2 separate regions of the Homo sapiens genome follow, and region 2 is linked to region 1. A link means that fine-mapping ties the variant in region 1 to the expression of a gene that starts in the linked region. Tissue or cell type: cerebellar hemisphere. Region 1 holds a variant in brackets; the other region holds the start of a gene. All regions are shown on one strand. Distances are between the middles of the regions.

Region 1 (10,016 bases):
AGAAAAGCACTATCTGTAGTAATTCACCCCATCCCCAGGTGAGCTAAGTATGGTTACCCTTTTCACAGATGGGGAAAATGTGGCTGAGAGATGAGAAAGAGCTCAGGAGATCAAGACCATCCTGGCTAACACGGTAAAACCCCGTCTCTACTAAAAATACAAAAAATTAGCCAGGCATGGTGGCACGCGCCTGTAGTCCCAGCTACTCAGGAGGCTGAGGCAGGAAAATCGCTTGAACCCAGGAGGCAGAGGTTGCAGTGAACGGAGATCGTGCCACTGCATTCCAGCCTGGGCGACAGAGCGAGGCTCTGTCTCTAAATAAATAAATAAATAAGATGAGAAAGAGCTGCCCAGATTGAGATCACAGGTTTGCCTCATGTCCTTGCGTGTTCTCTACACTATAAGCCTCACACACACCCTCACAGGCATTTTTATCTTGATTTCAGATAACCCATGATGATGTTGTAATAATAACAATAATTATAATTATCAACAGGAGCAGACCTTCTGTATTTCAGAATCTTGCATCACCATCATCATCATCATCATCATCATCATCATCATCATCATCAAATTAATAGCTAATCCTAGTCACTATGTTATTCCACACACTGTTCTAAGGATTTAACTAATCTAACCTTCCTAACAGCAGGACAAGTTAGATCATTTGGTTAAGGTCATATAGCTAGTATGCTGGAATTTGAACCAAGGAAATCTGGCTGTAACACCCTCATTTTTTTAAACTTTTTCACTGAAGTAGAACATAGACATAGAAAAATGCATGAACCATGAATCTTCACACAGTGAGCACTCTCACTCAACTCACTCAATCCACACTCACTCAACCCACCAACCAGATCAAGAAACAGAACACTGTCAGCACCAGCAGCTTTTCGCTCCCCACCCAGTCCCCAAGGTAACCACTATCTTAACTTCTATCGCCATTGATTAGTTCTGCCTTTTTCTTTTTAGATACAGGGGCTCACTATGTTGCCCAGGCTGGCCATGAACTCCTGGCCTCAAGTGATCCTCCCACCTTGTGCTCCCAAAGTACTGGGATTACAGGTCTGGCCTCAAGGAAAAATGAAACCAAGCATCTCTGTCTTACTTCAGAATGAGTTAGACAGAGATAGTTATATATCAAGGGCTTTAAGCAGGGGAAATGACAACAAATCACTTCAGTCATATTGTAACAGTACCTGCATCCTATTTTTGAACTTATATAAATGCCCCTTCATTATCAACCATTATGCCCTCTCACTTAGTCCTCATAATGACCCTAGAGTCTAGAAAATAGCTTTGCCTCATGCCCATTTTACAGATGAGGAAATTGAGTTCTCTGCAACAATTTAGTAAGTTTCTTGAGACCCCACGTCAGTCCCAGCTACTTGCCCAGGGTGGTCTCACATCAGTGTGTGGTGGAAGTGGGAGTATCACCAAGATCCTTGAGGCTGACTGCACCATCTGCTGCCTTACCATCCACCCGGCCTGGATTTCTGCTAGGAAACTCAGAAACACATTAGATACTCAGGGATGTTTGTGTGAACAAATGGTCCCATTGCCCTAACTGCTCCAAAGCTTCCTACCACAGGCCTATCCCTGCCTTTCCAGGGGACCCATCTACTCCAAAGTCCCCTCTCTGTTAAAACGACATGAGCTTCTGTTTTTTCTTCAAAATCTGCAACAAAGTCCCACCTCTTCGTCTTTGCACATGCTTTCCCCCTGCTGACAAGAGTCTACTCCCCTAGGTACATGCTTGGCTTCCTCCTTCACTGTTCAGTGTCACCTCCTGGACAAGGCTGACCCCGACCCCTGACTCTGTGTCTGCATAATGCAGCCCATGTGCTCTCTTGTTCTTCTGCCTTTGTCTTGGAGTGCTTATTCCATTTGACTCTATATTCTACACATATATTTGTTTGTCTCCCTCTAGAATGTATGTGCCATGAGGGCAAAGTGCTGTTTTATTCACTGCTTTATTCCCAGGGCCCAGATTTACATGGCACACAGTAAGGACTCAATAAATCTTGAGTGGATGGAAGACTTGGTTAGCACAGAACTTCTCCATCAAAATAAAAATAGCCTCCACGAAGGAAGGATACCTAGAATTTAAATCCACTGCTTTGCTCCCAGGGGCAGTGCTGTGGACTTTTGCCAGGGTCTGATCTTTAGTTGTGACAAAGACAGGAGGTTGTGGGGAACAGGGCCAAACCCAGTGAGGTAGCTTATCTGCTGGCCAGGAAGCCACGGAGGGCCTTCCCTACCCCTCTCAGGCTGCTACGGTGATTGTTCCCCCATGTCTGCAGCCAGCCAAGGTGCCCCACCCCAAAGCATCAGAGGAGAGAACCAGCCACCAGCCCAGAGGTGACAATGGGGCTGCTGTGTGCTATGGGCCCTTGGGTAGGGCACGGGCTCAGGCAAATGAGCCAGAGCACACGCAGATATAGAGGCATGTGCACTGGCTGCGCTCTGCTTCCACTCTGGTGCCTGCCAGCATGGAGGACAGCCTAAAGCAGCTCAGCCTGGGGAGAGATCCTGAGGGGGCAGGGGACAGCCAGGCCCTGGCTGAGCTCCAGGAGCTTGCCCTGAAGTGGTTCATGGAGACACAGGCCCCCTTCATTCTGCAGAACGGTGCCCTGCCTCCCTGGTTTCATGGATTCATCACCCGCAAGTAAGGCTGCTTCTACCCACAGGTCCCTCATAGCCCACAGCCCCTTGGGGCTGAGAAAATGGTCTGGGAACTCTGGATCAGACTGGTTCCCATCCTTTCCCTGGGCTAGGCAGGGGCCCTTGGAGGCGGGGGGCAGGGGAACAGACTGAGGAGCGCCACATCCTCTGGTGGTGGCTTCTGTAGGCAGAGTCGGGGAGGGCAACGGCCTCTACTTTAGTACAAGTTGAGGATGGCTGGGGCTGCCAGGCTGCCAGAGGACAGAAAGAGGGCCAGGCCCTGACTTGATGAGTAACTAGGGGACCATATCTTTTATCGTCCAAACCGGAACACTATTAGTAACTAAGCTAGGAGAACCGTCATAAATGGGGCCATCCCAGGCAAACCTGGATGCATGGTTATCCTAGGTATAAAGGCCAAGATACAGGTTTGGCTTTCTATTTGGGCTGGGTCTCCAAGCAGCCAAAACACCTGATGAAGGAATGGCAAATCCAGCCAGTCCTTAGGTCCTGGCACAGCACCTGCACAGAGCCAGGGCCAGCTTTATGGTCACTGACTCGTGCAGCAGCACAGGGTCAAAAGGGCTCCACATTTGGTTTAATGCTCTGCTGTCACTGTCTGGAAACTCTAAATCGTTTTGAACCAGGGGCCCCATGTTTTCATTTAGCACCTGGTCCTGCAAATGATTTAGCTGCGTAGAACAGGCGCTCGGTATTTGGTGAGTAAGTGAGTGAGGGAATACATATCTGGTCTGTGTACTGCCAAACCACAAGACAGCTGGAACTTTTCTTCATGCCTCCAAAGTATTTGGCACCATGTGGAAAATCTCTGTAACTGCCTGGGATTGAAGGGGACAGGAAGAGGAATGAGTCCCTTTTAGCTGCTTCAGACACAGCAGCATCTTCTCCCTGCAGAAGCTTGTGTGTAGTGCACATCCTGCAGCACTGTACACAGTGGTTCTGAGGGAGGGACTCCCCACTAAACCTCAACATCTCCAGCTGTGTGGATTTATTCTTGCTACACAACCATCCAGGTGGAGAGTGGGTGGCCAGGGTCAGCAACCAATGTGCCTGCTAGTGAGGCTGCAGTGGGGAGTTGGGGGGGTTGCATATGGCTTCAGACCCTGACCCAGCCCCAGACAGTCTTGAACTTAATCATTTGGGCTCAGATAGGCCACATGCTGAACCCTGACAGGCCACAGACCCATCCACAGGTCTGAGTGGCTCCTCTATAAAGGGTTGGAGGTCTGGAACCCAAAGGCATGGCCAGCAGGGATTCCAAGAGAGGCCTAAGTCAGGCTGCACCTGCTGCCATTAGGGCACAGACCCCAGCTAATGGCATGTCTTCTGCCCAGGCAGACGGAGCAGCTACTCAGGGACAAAGCTCTTGGTTCCTTCCTTATCCGCCTCAGTGACCGAGCCACTGGCTACATCTTGTCCTACAGGTAAGAGGGGAAGCCCTCTGGGCAAGCAAGCTCATCCTACCATAACCTAGCCTTGCAGATTAGTGCAGAGGCCCCACTGGCCCAAATTGCCTAGATTTCCCTGGGTCCTGACTCCTGAATCCCTCAATCATCCATCACATGCTCAGCAGACACTTCCTGAGCAGCACTGGCCATATACTAGGGATGAAGACACGGCCTTCAAAGGAGGTGAGTGGGGTTCGGGGAGGCTTCACAGAGGTGAACTTTGAGCCTAGGATAGAAGGAAGAATACAAGTTGCTAGGCAGAAAGGAGGGTGTGGTTGGGGTTTAGGAGGGTATCTCTGGTAGATGGAACGCCATGTGCAAAAATACAGAGGCATGAAAGACAAGGGTGCTGGGGGAGCTGCAGGGTGCTGGGGGAGCTGCAGGTTGCTGGGTGCAGCAGAACACTTGGTTCCTTTGGAGGAATGCCTGGAAGGGAGGGTGGAAAAAGCTTAGAATGGCCTTGGATGCCTGGCTAAGTCTGTAGACCATGAAGGATGATCTGGTTCAATGTATTTGCATAGGTCCTTTAGGCAGCCTATGGAGAGAGGACTGGAAGTCAGAGCTGGAGGTGTGGGGGCACTGGGGACTCCTGCAATTGCCTGGATGTGAGATAATGAGGTCTAGGCTAGGGTAAGACAGTGGGGATAGAGAGAAGGAGACAAGGTAGCGAGGACAAAGGCAAAGATGGTGATGTCAGATCTTGTCCCAAGAGTAGGTTGGTCAGGACGGGGAATTCAGAGGAGGTAAGAAGGCTTCCCTAAGTAGGGAGGGAGGCCAGGGCTCCAGAGTAAACTTAAAAGGCTTCAGATTCTGATTCAAAATTGTCACATATTCAGACTGCCCCAGTTCAAACCCTTACCTTGAGCAAGTTACTTTGCTTCTCTGTTCCCCCGTTTCCTCATCTGTAAAATGGGAATATGATAGTACCTGCTTCATAGGCTTGATGAAAGTGTGCAATCAGTTGATACGTTTAAAACTGTTTAACACAATGCATAAAATGTAGTAAGGACTTTAAATAAATGTTAATCATTGTTAAAATATTTTTATTCTGTGTGCCAGACACTGTGCTAGGCATTTTGAAATATACTAACTCAGTAGTTTTCAAATGTCTTTTGAGCTTTGGGGATTTTTTTATTTTCTTTTGTTTTGTTTCTTCCCAGGTGAGATCTTAGGGAGAATACTAACTTATAAAAGAGACCAAAGTGGGACCGCCCAAAGGTATACAAATAGAAAAATTAACAGAATAGAGTCCCAAAATAGTCCCAAATGTTTGGTTACCAGATTTACAACAGAGGCATCACTGCAATTCCGTGGGGGAAAGGCTTGTTTTTTCAATAATTGGTGCAGGAGCAATTGGATATCTAAATGGAAAACAATTACTGCTACCTCATACCATACATGAAAATTAATTAATTCTAGATGGATCGTAGATCCAAGAAAGAAAAGCAAAACAATACCATTTCTAGAAGAAAACAGGAAAACATTGTCATAGGTAAATGAAAATGCCTTTGAAAATGAGAGGCCAAGTTTTTTTAAACAGGACACAAAAAGCGCTAATCTTAAAAGAGTGATTAACTTGATTTCCTTAAAATTAAGAATTTTTTAAAATTTATTTATTTATTTATTTATTTTTTGGAGACAGAGTCTCGCTCTCTCGCTCTGGCTGGAGTGCAGTGGCGCGATCTCTGCTCACTGCCACCTTTGCCTCCCGGGTTCAAGCAATTCTCCTGTCTCAGCCTCCCAACTAGCTGGGACTACAGGCACACGCCACCACACCCAGCTAATTTTTGTATTTTTAGTAGAGATGGGGTTTCACCATATTGGTCAGGCTGGTCTCAATCTCCTGACCTTGGGTGATCCACCTGCCTCAGCCTCCCAAAGTGCTGGGATTACAGG[C/T]GTGAGCCACTGCACCTAGCCAAAATTAAGAATTTTTATAATTCTTATAAAGAGATATTATTAAGAGAAGAAAAAGGTCAGGGTGCAGTCTTGAAGAAGTTATCTATTAGAATACAAATATCTAACAAAGGACTCAAATCCAGAATATATAAAGAACTCCTACAAATAAATAAGCAAAAATAGATAATTCAATAAGTAAAAGCAAAAGAACTGAGCAGGCACTTTACCAAAAAGAAAAACCCAGAAGGCCCATAAGCATATGAAAACATGTTCAGCATCATTAGCTATCAGGGAAACACAAATTAAAGCCACAATGGATGGCTATAATGGAAAGACAGAATATGTGGAACAACTGGAGCTCTCATACATTGCAATAATTTTATTTTATTTTTGAGATGGAGTTTCACTCTTGTCACCTAGCTGGAGTGCAATGGCACAATCTCAGCCCACTGCAACCTCCGCCTCCAGGGTTCAAGCAATTTTCCTACCTCAGCCTCCAGAGTAGCTGGGATTACAGGCAACCACCACGACACCGGCTATTTTTTTTTTTTTAATTTTTAGTAGAGATGGGGTTTCACTATATTGATCAAGCTGGTCTTGAACTCCTGACCTCAAGTGATTTGCCTGCCTCGGCCCCTCAAAGTGCTGGGATTACAGGCATGAGCCACTGCACCTGGCGCATTGCAATAATTTTAGAAAGCAATTTGGCATGATTTACTAAAGCCAAACACGGGTGTACCCTTGACCCATCAACTCTACTCCTTGGTATATTCACATCAGAAATGAGTACATATTCACCAAAAGATATGCACAAGAATGCTCACAGCAGCTTTATTTATAACAGCCCAAATCCGGAAACTACCTAAATGTCTATCATCAGAATAGGTACATGGTGGATTTTTCATTAACTAGAATACTACATATAAATGAGAAAAAAAAGAAACTAATTCTACTTGGACATGAATCAATCTCCAAGATATAATGTTGAGTGAAATGTGCTAGACACAAAAGAGAAGTATTATAGAAGTTCTCTAATGGGCAAGACTAATCTATGCTGATAGGCGTCGGAATGGTGGCTACCTTTAGGGGGCATTGACTGGATGGGAGCGCAAGTAGGTCTTCTGGGGGCTGGAAGGGTTTTGTATCTTGACCTGAGTGGCAGTTACATGGGAGGGTTCCTATATGGAAATTCATCAAGCTGCACATTTATAATGTACACACATCACTGTGTAGAGGTTATTCTTCTAGGAAAAAGGGAGATGAAGAGGGTAGGATTTTAGGGTGGGACTTTACAGGCCGAAGAGGGGGTGGGAGCTGGAACTCCATCATTGCAGCAGGGTGGGGAGTAGGGTGAGGTTGAGTTGTACAGGTGCAGGGTTGGATCCTGTCTTTATTTAAAACTTTGGTGTTTTGTTCATTGTGGATTTTTTTCATATATTTTGATTTTCTAAAATACTGCGTTATTAGTTTTCTTTATTGAGTTTTTTGGTGCCCCTTTAAATTTCGCACCTAAGATGAGTGCCTCACTTGCCTCACTCCAGTCACAGCCGTGCTCTCCCTGACTCCACCAGAGCAGGCTTAGGTACTTCCCAGGATCCCAGGGCTCCACGGTTTGAAAACCTCTCCGTAGCTTCCTGATGAACACACCATGGCTCCAAGTGGGGTACAGTGGCCCCAGGTCAGGCAGGTCTGTTCTGGATCAAGAGCTGGGACCCCTCACCTGCACCCAGGCACAGAGCTCAGACCCTGGGCCAAGGCTGGGCTGCCTGTGACCAGCAGCCCCAGACCACAAGCACTTGTGTTGCAGGGGCAGTGATCGCTGCCGACATTTTGTCATCAACCAGCTTCGAAACCGGCGTTACATCATCTCAGGAGACACCCAGAGCCACAGCACCCTGGCTGAGCTTGTGCACCATTACCAGGAGGCACAGCTCGAGCCCTTCAAAGAGATGCTGACTGCTGCCTGCCCCCGGGTAGGCGCCCCACTTCCCCAGGGTGAGGGTGGCAGGGCAGAGAGCCCAGGCCTGGGGTATCCATCACTCAGACATACTCCTTTTCAAGCCCTCCCTATTTACTATCACCCAGGGGCACTTGGTGTGGGGTCATGATCCCTATTGGAAAAAGGGAGACTGTGGCAATGTCTTACCTGAGGTCAGAGACCTGGTGGGAATGTTGCAGTCTCTTACCAGCAGTCTCAGGCAGGCAGCTGGAGACTGGCTGGGCATGTGTGACCACATACCTGCCGTATCCGCATGCTCCCAGCCAGAGGACAATGATCTGTATGATGCCATCACCCGGGGCCTCCACCAGACCATCGTGGACCCAGAAAACCCACCTGCCACGGCATTCCTCACAGTGGTCCCCGACAAGGCCGCCAGCCCCCGCTCTTCTCCAAAGCCCCAGGTCTCCTTCCTCCATGCACAGAAAAGCCTGGATGTGAGTCCCCGGAACCTCTCCCAGGAGGAAAGCATGGAGGTGAGGAGCATTATGGGCCACCTAGAGTCAGGGTTGCCAGACCAGGGATGTGGGTGCCATGCTCCCAGTCAGACCCTGAGGCCAGGCCAGCCACTCCCTCCGGCTGTGGAGGGTGAGCCAGGCCCAGAGGTGCGGACCCAGCTTGGAATCACCCAGGGTTCACCCGTGCCATGGCCTGCCTGTGGCCAGTTAGATTTGGTTCAAGCCTTGGCTTGGCCATTTTCTAGCGATGTGGCTTTAGGCGAGTCACATAATTTCTCTGAGCCTCAGTTTACCATGCCTGAGGTTCTTGTGAAGCTTGAATGAGAAAATGGATATGAAATGCCTGAATATCCCTTAGTAAGCTGTAGCATGGGGTGCCTGTGAGTCAATATTTTATTCTTCTCCATAGCACCCCATGGACTCAGAAAGATTTTTCTTTTCTTTTTTTTTTTTGAGACAGAGTCTCGCTGCAATGCCCAGGCTGGAGTGCAATGGTGCAATCTCAGCTCACTGCAATCTCCGCCGTCTCCTGGGTTCAAGTGATTCTCCTGCCTCAGCCACCCGAGGAGCTGGGATTACAGGCACCTGCCACCACACCCGTCTAATTTTTGTATTTTTGGTAGTAACAGGGTTTCAACATATTGGCCAGGCTGGTCTTGAACTCTTGACCTCAAGTGATCCGCCCGCCTTGGCTAAAGTGCTGGGATTACAGGCATGAGCCACTGTGCCCAGCCATTTTTATTTTTATTTTTGAGACAGAGTCTCGCTCTGTTACCCAGACTAGAGGGCAGTGGCACCATCTCGGCTCACTGCAATCTCTGCATCCTGGATCCAAGTGATTTCCCCTGCCTGCGCCTCCTGAGTAGCTGGGATTACAGGTGCACGCCACCATGCCTGGCTAATTTTTTTTTTTTTTTTTTGTATTTTTAGTAGAGACGGGTTTTCGCCATGTTGGCCAGGCTGGACTTGAACTCTTGACTTCAGGTGATCCGCCTACCTCGGCCTCCCAAAGTGCTAGGATTACAAGCGTGAGCCACAGCGCTTGGCCGAAGGATTTTTCTTTATATCAGATCACAGCATGCCAACAGCTTCTCCTCATATTTAGAATAAAACCTAAACACTTCACTGGGGCCCACAAGAGCCTCACCAGATGCCCTGCTACCCTCTGCTTCTTCACTGGAGGCTTCAGTGAGGCCTTTTCATTGGCTTCTTTGGCCTTCTAGATCATCCTTGAACATACCAACCTTGCTCCCACCTCAGGGCCTCTGCACTGGCTCTACCATCTGCCTGCAATGCTCTTCCTACAAGATATCTGCATGGTTTACACTCTAACTGCATTCCATTCTCTTCTTAAATATCACCTCCTCAGAAAGGCCCACCTACATGACAGAAAATGTTGCCTTCCCCACCTGCCGTTCTCTCTATCCCATGACCCTGCTTCGTTCTTTGTAGCACTGATCATGCCCCCACACTCCATTGTCTTGTGATATATTCACCCATCATATAGCACATCAAACCATATTGTGCTAC
Region 2 (10,016 bases), 210 kb after region 1:
AACCAAGGATCAAGGACAAAAGGCCAGACAGCTCTGTGGAAACAACACCAGGATTTCAGTGAGGGGGTGTCATCAGGATAGAAGGCACACAGGAAGTTCCCCTTGACCAAGAAAATAAGGCAACTCTTTATTATGAAGTTGTTCTGACACCCTTCTATGGATCAGTCCCTGGAACCTCCTTCGCACTCCCTACCAGGTGGTATGGTCTTCTTTCTTCCTCTGAACCTAGGGACTCAACTAACAGCTAATTCTATCCCATGGTTTCTTCACCTCAAGTGTGACTGCAGAGAGCGACCAGTCTCTGTCCTTTCCTGCTCTTTAGAGAGAAAAAAACCACAGCTCCTTTTAATATTAAATATTATTTATTAAAAACAAACAAACAAACATGGGGGAATCCAAAGATGGCAAAGTTCTTATTTTACATGCAAAAGTCTCAACCAAAAATGCCTTTAAGAGCCAACAGGCAGGTAAATAAGGGCAGAAGCTGGAGGGAGACACGTGTCAAGAGATTGAGAACATCCTGGCTGACATGGTGAAACCACGTCTCTAATAAAAATACAAAAATTAGCTGGGTGTAGTGGCGCACACCTGTAATCCCAGCTACTCAGGAGGCTGAGGCAGGAGAATCACTTGAACCTAGGCAGCGGAGGTTGCAGTGAGCTGAAATTGTGCCACTGAACTCCAGCCTGGGTGACAGAGCGAGACTCCATCTTAAAAAATAAAAATAAAAAATAAAAAAAAAAGGATAGATCTAATTTCTCAGGCTACATTAAGGGCTAATGGTTCTTATTTCTTTGTGTGTGCCAAAGACCCCCTTTGGCGGACTTTTTTTTTTCGAGATAGGGTCTTGCTCCATCACCCAGACTGGAGTGCAGTGGCACAATCATGGTCAATGCAGCTTCAACCTCCCAGGCCAAGTCTTGCTCCCACCTCAGCCCGAGTGGCTGGGACTACAGGTGCGTGCCAACATGTCTGGATATTTTAATTTTTTGTAGAGATGGGGTCTCCCTATGTTGCCTAGGCTGGTCTTGAACTCCTGGGCTCAAGCAATCCTCCTGTCTTGGCCTCCCAAAGTGCTGGGATTACAGGTATGAGCCACCAGACTCAGGCTCAGGATGTCTTTACAGAAAATACACAGGTTTAGAAATGAAACCAATTACAGTAGGTTCTCATTATTCACAACAATTATGTTCTATGAAGTCGCTACAGACACTAAATTATCCAACACAGAACCACTGTTCCTTGGGGAAACAGGTTCCTGAAAGCCTCTGGGCACATTCTTGTCAACCAATCAATACATAATCATGTTTTATGTGTGTTTATGTTTAAAGGCACTTACTGAATATACATTAGTAATTCATTAATACTGAACTCATGCCTAAACAAAGCTTATCTAACACACATATTTTCTCCATAAGACAAATCACAATCTTCTTGCATTTAGAAGCACCTCAGCACTATGCTTGGGGGCTATCTCAAACAGTGGAATCACCGACAAAAAGCACAAAGATGAGAAAAATGTAGCACCAAAGACTGCAAAAATGACATTTGCTTACAATATGAGAGTTGACAAGAAGGCAGTGTCACCTTGTTTGACTTCAGTTGAGAACATGTGCATCAGGCAACTAAAATTTTTCACGTGAAAAAATGTCATGTCTTCCAAAGACCACAAAAGCATTGTAAGTATTAATTTGAGGGCTACAGACAAATTTTAGTAAGTAGGTGAATTCATAAATACAGAATCCACAAATAATGAGGATAGACTGTATGCTAAAATTTTATCAAAATACAAAAACATATGTGCTTCTTTACTGACACATTATATATGTGATCTAGAAGCAAATTTAATAACTACCATAATTTCGAAGTTGCAATGAGCTTACACAATATCATGATATGAAAATATCTATAATTTATATTCATAACAAAGTCACACTGCTAATAATGTGATTTGTTGCCTACATTCACAGTGGAAGAAAATGCTAAATTTCAGTTGGAGGTTAGGAAACATAAAGATGCAATTTTTCCTCTCAGCCAAGTTCACGGCCCTCGCAATTCTACCCATTGGCAGTTTAAGGGACCACACAGTTAAGGCATCCAGGTTCAGGTTACTTTCTTTAAATCTGCCAGCCTAAAAAGCTGCCGAAGGTTTTCCAATAACAGGAAATCAAACAAACAAACAATTTATAACTAATCCTTGCCTATGAAGATCTCAAATTGGTAGTGTTTTGTTTTGGTTTTGTAAAGACAAGTTCTCATTATGTTGCCCAGGCTGGTATCAAACTCCTGGCCTCAAACGATCCTCTTGTCTTGGCCTTCCAAAGTGCTGGGATTACAGACAGGTTGGTAGTGTTTTATTCATTTGTGACCCATGAACAGGGTTCTTTCTGCCCAGGGTAGGAAAGACAGGAAAGTGCTCAAGCCAGTTTGGCTAATGGGAATGGTATTCAACCTCTGCTTCAGCACAGCCTTCTGCCTGCTGAAGCACAGGCTTGTCCTCTTCCCTGTCATTCTGGGCCTCACATTTGGCAATGGATAGAAACAAAAAAAGGAGGAAGGCTTGCGGTAAGCCAGCTTCCAAAAACCCGGGCTCCAAAAGACAAGGGTGTGATTCTATCAATGAGTGCACATTTGAGGATGTACAATGAATCCGGTCCTATTTTAAGTAATACACAAAGATTTAGCTCACTGAAACCTCATAACCCCGCTTACTAGGTACAGTAGTTCTTTAGCTGAGGTTTTGATTTCCACAGTTCCAGAGGTCAACCGTAGTCCAAAAATAGGTGAGTAGAGTGCAGTAAGATATTTTGAGAGAGACCACATTCACATACATTTTATTACACTGTTATAATTCTATTTTATTATTATTGTTGTTATTCTCTTATTGTGCCTAATTTACGAATTAAACTAAGTAATCACAGGTATGTATGTGTAATCTGTATGAGAAAAAACACAGTATAGATGCTCCTCAACTTACAATGGGGTTACTTCCCAATAAACCTATGTAAAGTTGAAAAATTGTAAGTCAAACCACGGTAAGTCAGTCAGGGTCCTTCACTATCCAAGATTTCAGACATCCACTGGAACGTACACCCCGCAGATAAGGGGGGAACTACTATTTTTTTATTATCAGTTCCACTTTTCTAGTAAGAAAAGGGAGGCTTAGAAGCGGTTAAGGAAGCTTCCCCAAGGGACACTAAAAGGTGGATACAAGCTATAGTATAGGCTACCAAGATACACTACCTCTTACTTCAGGGTCTTATGAAGGTCAGAGCTAAGAGACTTTAGACCTTAGCCCTCTCTTGCCATCTTCTCTCTTTGGGAAACTTTTCCCTAAATTTCCTAGGCAGAATTCATCACTGACTCAGTGTTTCCAAGGAACACTACAGATGCCTCTATGAAACTACTCAGGCAAGTCAACAGCCCACAGTATTGCACGGTACTTGGCGTAAAGCGAACCCAGCCTCTGTCTGTACCCGTCCAGTGATGTCTGTATCTGTCCAGCACGCTACCTAAGACAGCGTGGCCCACTACTGGAAAACTTCGGTTAATACAGCCCTCCCAGCTACGGATAAATGATCTCCTCCGCAGAGAAACCAGCCCTAATCTCGATACTGCCCAGAACATTCTCAGGACGCAAAAGGAGGCCACCCACGGGCCTCCCCCACTCCCCTCAGGCCCCGTACACCGAGGAACAGCCAGGGCAAATGGAGCCATGGAAGCCACCCTCAGGCCCCAGGGCCTGGAGCATCCCTGAACGGACCTGCTTACAGGCAGCCTCGGGCCCAACCTCGCTCACTCGCCCTCTGGCCTGGACTGTCAACGGCCCTAATGACCCCAATCCCCAACGGCCCTGCGCTCCAACTCACCACTGCACTGCCAGGCTGCACGTCGGAAGCCGGGCTCCGCGCGACTGCGACGCGCAAAGATGAGCTATCGAAGGGGCGGGGCATCGCGCCGGCCCCGCCCTCACGGCTCGGAGCACTCCGCAGCGCCCGTTGCCGTCGCTATGGCGGGCGCGGGGCAGACGCCGACGAGGGTGGGCGGAGAGAGGAGGGAGGAAGCCAGGTCCTGCTTCCAGAGGAGTGGTAGTTGGAAATTTGCTTCCGGAAGCGCAGACGTTTAGCTTCCGGCAACTGCAGGTTTAGAGGTTTGTGTTGCAATTTCATTTTGTACTTTTGAGATTGGACTAAAGCTAATAACTTCTGTTGCTGAAATAAATTCAGTGAAATCGAGCTTTGTCTTTCAAACTGCTAGTCATGACCCATTAACGTGACAGATATCAGTTTAATAGGTTGTCAACTGACTTTTTTTTTTTTTTTTTTTGAGGGCCAGGCAGAGTAGCTCACGTCTGTAATCCCAGGACTTTGGGAGCCGAGGTGAGAGGCTTGCTTGAGCTCTGGGTTTCCAGACCAGCCTGGGCAACATAGCGAGAGACCTCGTGTCTACTAAAAATAAAAACAATTAGCACATGCCTGTAGTTCCAGTTACTTGGGAGGCTGAGGCAGGAGGATCGCTTAAGCCCTGGAGGTTGAGGCTACATTGAGCCGTGATGACGCCACTGCACTCCAGCCTGGGGAACAGAACTAGACCCCGTCTCAAAAAAAAAAAAAGAGATGGGGCTGGGTGTGGTGGCTCATGCCTGTAATCCCAGCATTTTGGGAGTCGGAGTGGGTGGATCACTTGAGGTTAGGAGTTTTGAAATCAACCTGGCCAATATGGTGAAACCCCGTCTCAAGTAAAAAAAAAAAAAACAGAAACAAAAACAAAATTAGCCGGGTGTGGTGGCATGTGCCCGTAATCCCAGCTACTTGGGAGGCTGAGGCAGGAGAATCGCTTGAACCCTGGAGGCAGAAGTTGCAGTGAGCACAGATCACACCACTGCACTCCAGCCTGGGCAACAGAGTGAGACTGTCTCGAATAACAACAACAAAAAAAGATGGGAAGAGGCTCATGCCCCATTATGGAGGCCGCCCTGTGGCTCAGATGTGGTGGCTCACTCCTGTAATCCCAGCACTTTGGGAGGCCAAGGGGGGAGGATTGCTTCTGGCCGTGATTTCAAGACCAGTATGGGCAACATGGCGAGACCCAATCTCTACAAAAAATTTTAAAGTTACAGACGCAGTGGTGTGCACGTGTAGACCCAGCTGCTCAGGAGGCAGAAGTGAGGATCACTTGAGCCCAGGAGTTTGAGGCTGCAGTGAGCTATGATTGGGCCACTGCACTGTAGCCTGGGTGACAGAGTGAGACCCTGGCTCTAAAAAATATTTTTCGAAAAAACTAGTTTTGAAGTTCAAATATATATATAGAGAGAGAGACGGAGGACTATTAGACCACTTACAACTAGGTGAAGTTCATCTTTGGGGGCTTTTTTTTCTTTTGAGACTGAGTCTTGCTGTGTCACCCAGGCTGGAGTGCAGTGGCGCAATCTCGGCTCACTACAACTTCTGCCTCCTGGGTTCAAGTGATTCTCCTGCCTCAGCCTCCCCAGTAGCTGGGACTACAGGCACCCACCACCACACCCGGCTAATTTTTTTTTGTATTTTTTTTTTTAGTAGAGACGGGGTTTCACCATGTTGGCCAGGCTGGTCTCAAACTCCTGACCTCAGGTGCTCCACCCACCTCTGCCTCCCAAGTTGCTGGGATTACAGGCATGAGCCACTGCACCTGGCCATCTTTGGGGGCTTTTTGAGGAGGCTATGTGTGGTGAGAAATTGGCAAATACACCCACATCTCCCAGGACCTATTCTCTTGTCCTCAGTAATCTCACATTAACACAAAAGAGAAGACATCCTGCAGCTCTTCTGCTGCACACATGACTTCCCTGCATGCCAGCATCCTTAACCCTCAAGTTCACATGTTTCAGAGTGATATGACTAATTTTTCTCAGTCACATTGACTGGAGAGCTATTTCTCTCCTTCCCAGCTCTGTGACATCTCTGTCCATAGAAATTTCATCCAGCCCCAGTGGACCCTCTGCATGTCACTGGCTTAAAAAGTTTGGGTCAAAGTGAGCAGACTTCAAGACTGAATTGTCAAAATTCTTATGTGGCATCTCTTATAAGTCAAGATATCCTTGTAACCATTCTGGATCTATTGGACCAGGGTCAGGCATGTGCCCCTGAAGCTAAGGAAGAATGTACAAATTATATCATGAAGCCAGTGAGCTGATTTTCAAACTTAGATTGACTTAAGTGCTGACTGGTGTTCGGGCACATTCCACAGAGCTAAATACACAGAAACTGACCCTGCAATGGCTGGGATGTGGGTTCCTGAAGTGTGGAAAGGAATTAACATTAGTACTACAAAGCAATGGCTTTTAGCAGTTAAATGAGTGACCTGCTGCCTTCCTGTATAACCAGTTGCCTTAGTTTTGGCCAATCTGCTGCTTTGTTTTTGTTGGTGACATTTACGGGTTTTTGTGGGTTTTGGAAATAGATTATTATGTAACCTCTCCCACACCGAGATAATTGGGCCATCTTCACTCTAACTTTTAGCTTTTGAATATGAAGAAGTATTTTTGAAAGACTCCTACTTTAAGAAGGGTGAAATTTTGGCTGTCAAAAGTGCTCACAACTGTATGACTAAGTGAATTTTAATTTGTGTGATCTGGGGTTATGTAAGGTTTTTTTTCTTTTCTACACATTAACTTTAAATACCCCACCTTCAAATTATTCTAAAAGCACACTGATCACATTTATGCCTTTTAACTTAAAATTTAATTAAAATTTAAAATTAAAAAAGCATAAATGTGATCAGTGTGCTTTTAGAATAATTAAGCCAAATACTAAGGCTTTCCATTTCTGTTTACTTGCTCCCAAATCTGCTACTAATAATTTTCAATTGAAGCCAGTTGTTTTGGATAAAAATTCAATTAATCATCTCAAAAAAGAGAAATGGAATACATTAAGAAAGAAGTAGAATAGAAGATATAAGAGTGCATCATACATAGTAAAGTTACATCATGTTTTATAAAAACTGTTTCACCCATGCGGTTACTGGGTCACAAGTGAAAATCCATTTCTTGCTATGAGTCATGGCCAAACACTTTGAAAATCATTGTAATAAAGACTTTCTAAAGACTTTCCAGCTTTATAATTCTATAATTATGACAAGAACTCCAAACCATTCATTCAAAAAGGATGTATTAAGTACCTACTTTCACCACATTCCCCCAGAGGGCCAGACATATGGGATCATTGGCATGACCTTAGCATTGGGACTATAAAGCTAGAATAATTGGCCTTTTTTACACTGTGGACGTCTCAGGCATCTGATGAAACCAATGAATCCTGTCCCAGAACAATGGGGTTTTTTGGAAGAAAAAATTTTAATTGCTGTTGCAAAAAAACATCAGTATGGAGTAGAAATTGGTTTCTATGGCATTATTAGAGAATATGTTCTAGAAAGTGGAGGTAACTGGATGTAAGATTCTGGCAGCAGTTTAATAGATAACAGTCCCAGATGTTTAGGTTGAGGCCAACGCCTAATTAGGGTGAACGGTTTGTGCGTGTGTAATTTTGGACAATATCTGGAGAAAGGTTACACTGTGCACAAACCAAATTTAATTTTTTTCACAAGTGTTGTAAAGTTTCTTATAATAAAAGGTTTTTGCTACATGCACTTCATTTTCACATTAAGAGTGTTTAGAATACCTAGACACAAAAGAGAGCATTCATGCAAGATATGCTACTCCTTGATATAATAATGCATACAGTTCAAAATGTTTACCCTTTTTTTTTTTTTTTTTTTGAGACAGAGTCTCGCTCTGTCGCCCAGGCTGGAGTGCAGTGACGCGATCCCGGCACACTGCAAGCTCCGCCTCCTGGGTTCACGCCATTCTCCTGCCTCAGCCTCCTGAGTAGCTGGGACTGCAGGCCCCCGCGACCACGCCCGGCTAATTTTCTTTTGTGTTTTTTTTAGTAGAGACGGGGTTTCACTGTGTTAGCCAGGATGGTCTCGATCTCCTGACCTCGTGATCCACCTGCCTTGGCCTCCCGAAGTGCTGGGATTACAGGCGTGAGCCACCGCGCCCGGCCACTGTTTACACTATTGTTGCAGTAGCTGCTGCCATCACCGGGCTGCGGCAGGGAGGCACAGCTGGGGCTGCATGCTGGTGGATGCCTCCCCCTTCTGAGTTGGGGAGAGCTCCCCAGGTGCTGCTGCAGCCGCCCAAACAGCAGTTGCAGATCCAGGCCTCCTGCTTTACGGAGCAGGCAGGGTCGCCACCCTCCTGGGCGGGGCTACAACTGCCCAAACAGCGGCTGTGGATCCGAGCCTCCCGGTGCTCTTGGAGGGGGCTGGGAGCAGGCAAGATCTGCCCTCCTAGGTGCAGGACCCAGAGGGTCTCTGCAGCCTGCACCCTCGTGGACCCCAGAAAGGACCCCACCGCACCCCGTCGCTAGGGGGTGTCTGTTCCTGCTGCCTGGCCTCTCTCTGCTGCCGCCCCTGCTCTGATCATGGAGCAGGGCTTGGGGCCAAGCCCCAGGGGCCATGAATGACAGTAGGAGGCAGATCGATTCCTGGGCAGAAGGGGGTAGGTCTCCAGTAAGGCCCCACCTTCAGGTCAGGGAGGGACTGAAGACTGGGGACCAGGCTGCCAGTCCCACAGACCTGAGTGGGAGCTTGTGGTGCCTCCTCCAGGCTCACCCATGGCCGCCCATGGGCCAGTCAGCACACACTTCCTCCCTTCTGAGGTCCATAAAAGCCCTGGGCTCAGCCAAACTGCAGGAGAGGATGGAGAGACAGCGGGAAGAGTAGCTGTAGAAAGGAGCTACCCTCTCTGCCAGAGCTGCAGAGACCTGCAGAGCCTTTCAAAGGACCTGCGGAGAGGAGGCCCCCCTCCTCCTGTAGAGACTTCCAAATGACCTGAGGAGAGGATCCCCCAGAACAGCCTCCTTCTCCAGGAGCACCCCCCGCCAGGATCCCCTAGAGCAGTCCCCCTCTCCAGGGTTGGGTCTTCTCTCTGCTGAGAGCAGCCCCCCTCTACAGGGTGAGGTCTTCTTTTTGCTGAGAGCAGCTCCCCTCTCCAGGGTTGGGTCTTCTTTCTGCTGAGAGCAGCAGGTGGCAGGATAACCAGTGGGCAGAGGGGGAGCTACCCTCTCCAGGCCTCCTGTCTGCTGAGAGCTGAACACTCCATGGGATGACTTGCTCAGAGGAGCTACCCACTGCGGGTCTTCTCTGAGCTGCTTAACACTCAGTAAGTTCTTCGAGTACCTCATTATTCCTGGACACAGGACAAGAACTCAGGCAAAGGCGCTCCCAGGAAGAAAATCAATACCTCCCACACCCGTCCAAAGATCCCGTAACACTACCATTACATCTGAGGCTTTCTGCAACTACAAGGGGGTGGTGGAAAGCTTGGCCCTCAGTATCAACATCAAGAAAGCAGCTACCACCGTCTCTGCCTGTTCTCTTTTTGCATTTTTTTCTTTCATTTTTCTTAATCACCTCTGCTATTGCTGCTGCTTAGCAAAACTGGTAAAAACAAAATTGTAATCACTGATGCATCACCCAGATAATCCTCAAATTCCTGCCAGGGAATCCTCTCAGATTCTCTCCAGCGTGCTGTAAAAACCACCGAAGTCATTTGGGCCAGTGCTGGCAGCAGCCCTCCTGAGTCTGAGTTCCCACTCAAAGGTCATGAGATCACAGAACAGCCAGGTGGGGCAGAATAATGTTTTCAAGTACATAAGAACAAGCCACATAGGATTACAAAGGAAACCAATTATATCAAAGTAGTTATCAAAATATTTGTGAAACAGTAGTATATGTGCTTTATTAATGCAGCATGTCTAATATCTTCTGTTATTTTATTTTTGAGACAGGGTCTCGCTCTGTCACCCAGGCTGGAGTGCAGTGGCGCAATCACTGCTCACTGCAGCCTCAATCTTCCAGGCTTAAGCGATCCTCCCGCTTCAGCCTCCCAAGTAGCTGGGACTACAGGCATGTGCCACCATGCCCGGCTAATTTTTGTAATTTTTTTTTTTTTGGTAGAGAAGAGGTTTTGCCATGTT

Alleles and levels. Positions count from the first base shown, and alleles are read on the strand shown. Sizes are in standard deviations (SD) of each study's normalised expression.
As copies of C replace T in region 1, the expression in cerebellar hemisphere of the gene that starts at base 3,917 in region 2 goes up (small effect, 0.23 SD a copy in GTEx).

What was found. PIP is the estimated chance that this variant, and not a neighbour inherited with it, causes the effect.
Region 2: it holds the start of SKIC8, and the variant in region 1 is fine-mapped to the expression of SKIC8 in cerebellar hemisphere (GTEx, PIP 0.91).

The regions. Positions count from the first base shown.
Region 1 is chr15:78,090,093-78,100,108 of GRCh38, forward strand. It overlaps SH2D7 (SH2 domain containing 7), which reads left to right and starts at 2,469. Exons shown (of 6, transcript NM_001101404.2): 1 at 2,469-2,668; 2 at 4,020-4,109; 3 at 7,837-8,002; 4 at 8,292-8,504. The coding sequence starts at 2,493. The variant C/T (reference allele first, on the strand shown) is at 6,030.
Region 2 is chr15:78,295,693-78,305,708 of GRCh38, forward strand. SKIC8 (SKI8 subunit of superkiller complex) reads right to left here and starts at 3,917. Exons shown (of 11, transcript NM_025234.3): 1 at 3,870-3,917; 2 at 1-33. RefSeq lists enhancers at 3,115-4,082, 3,635-3,984, 4,083-5,049, 4,225-4,314.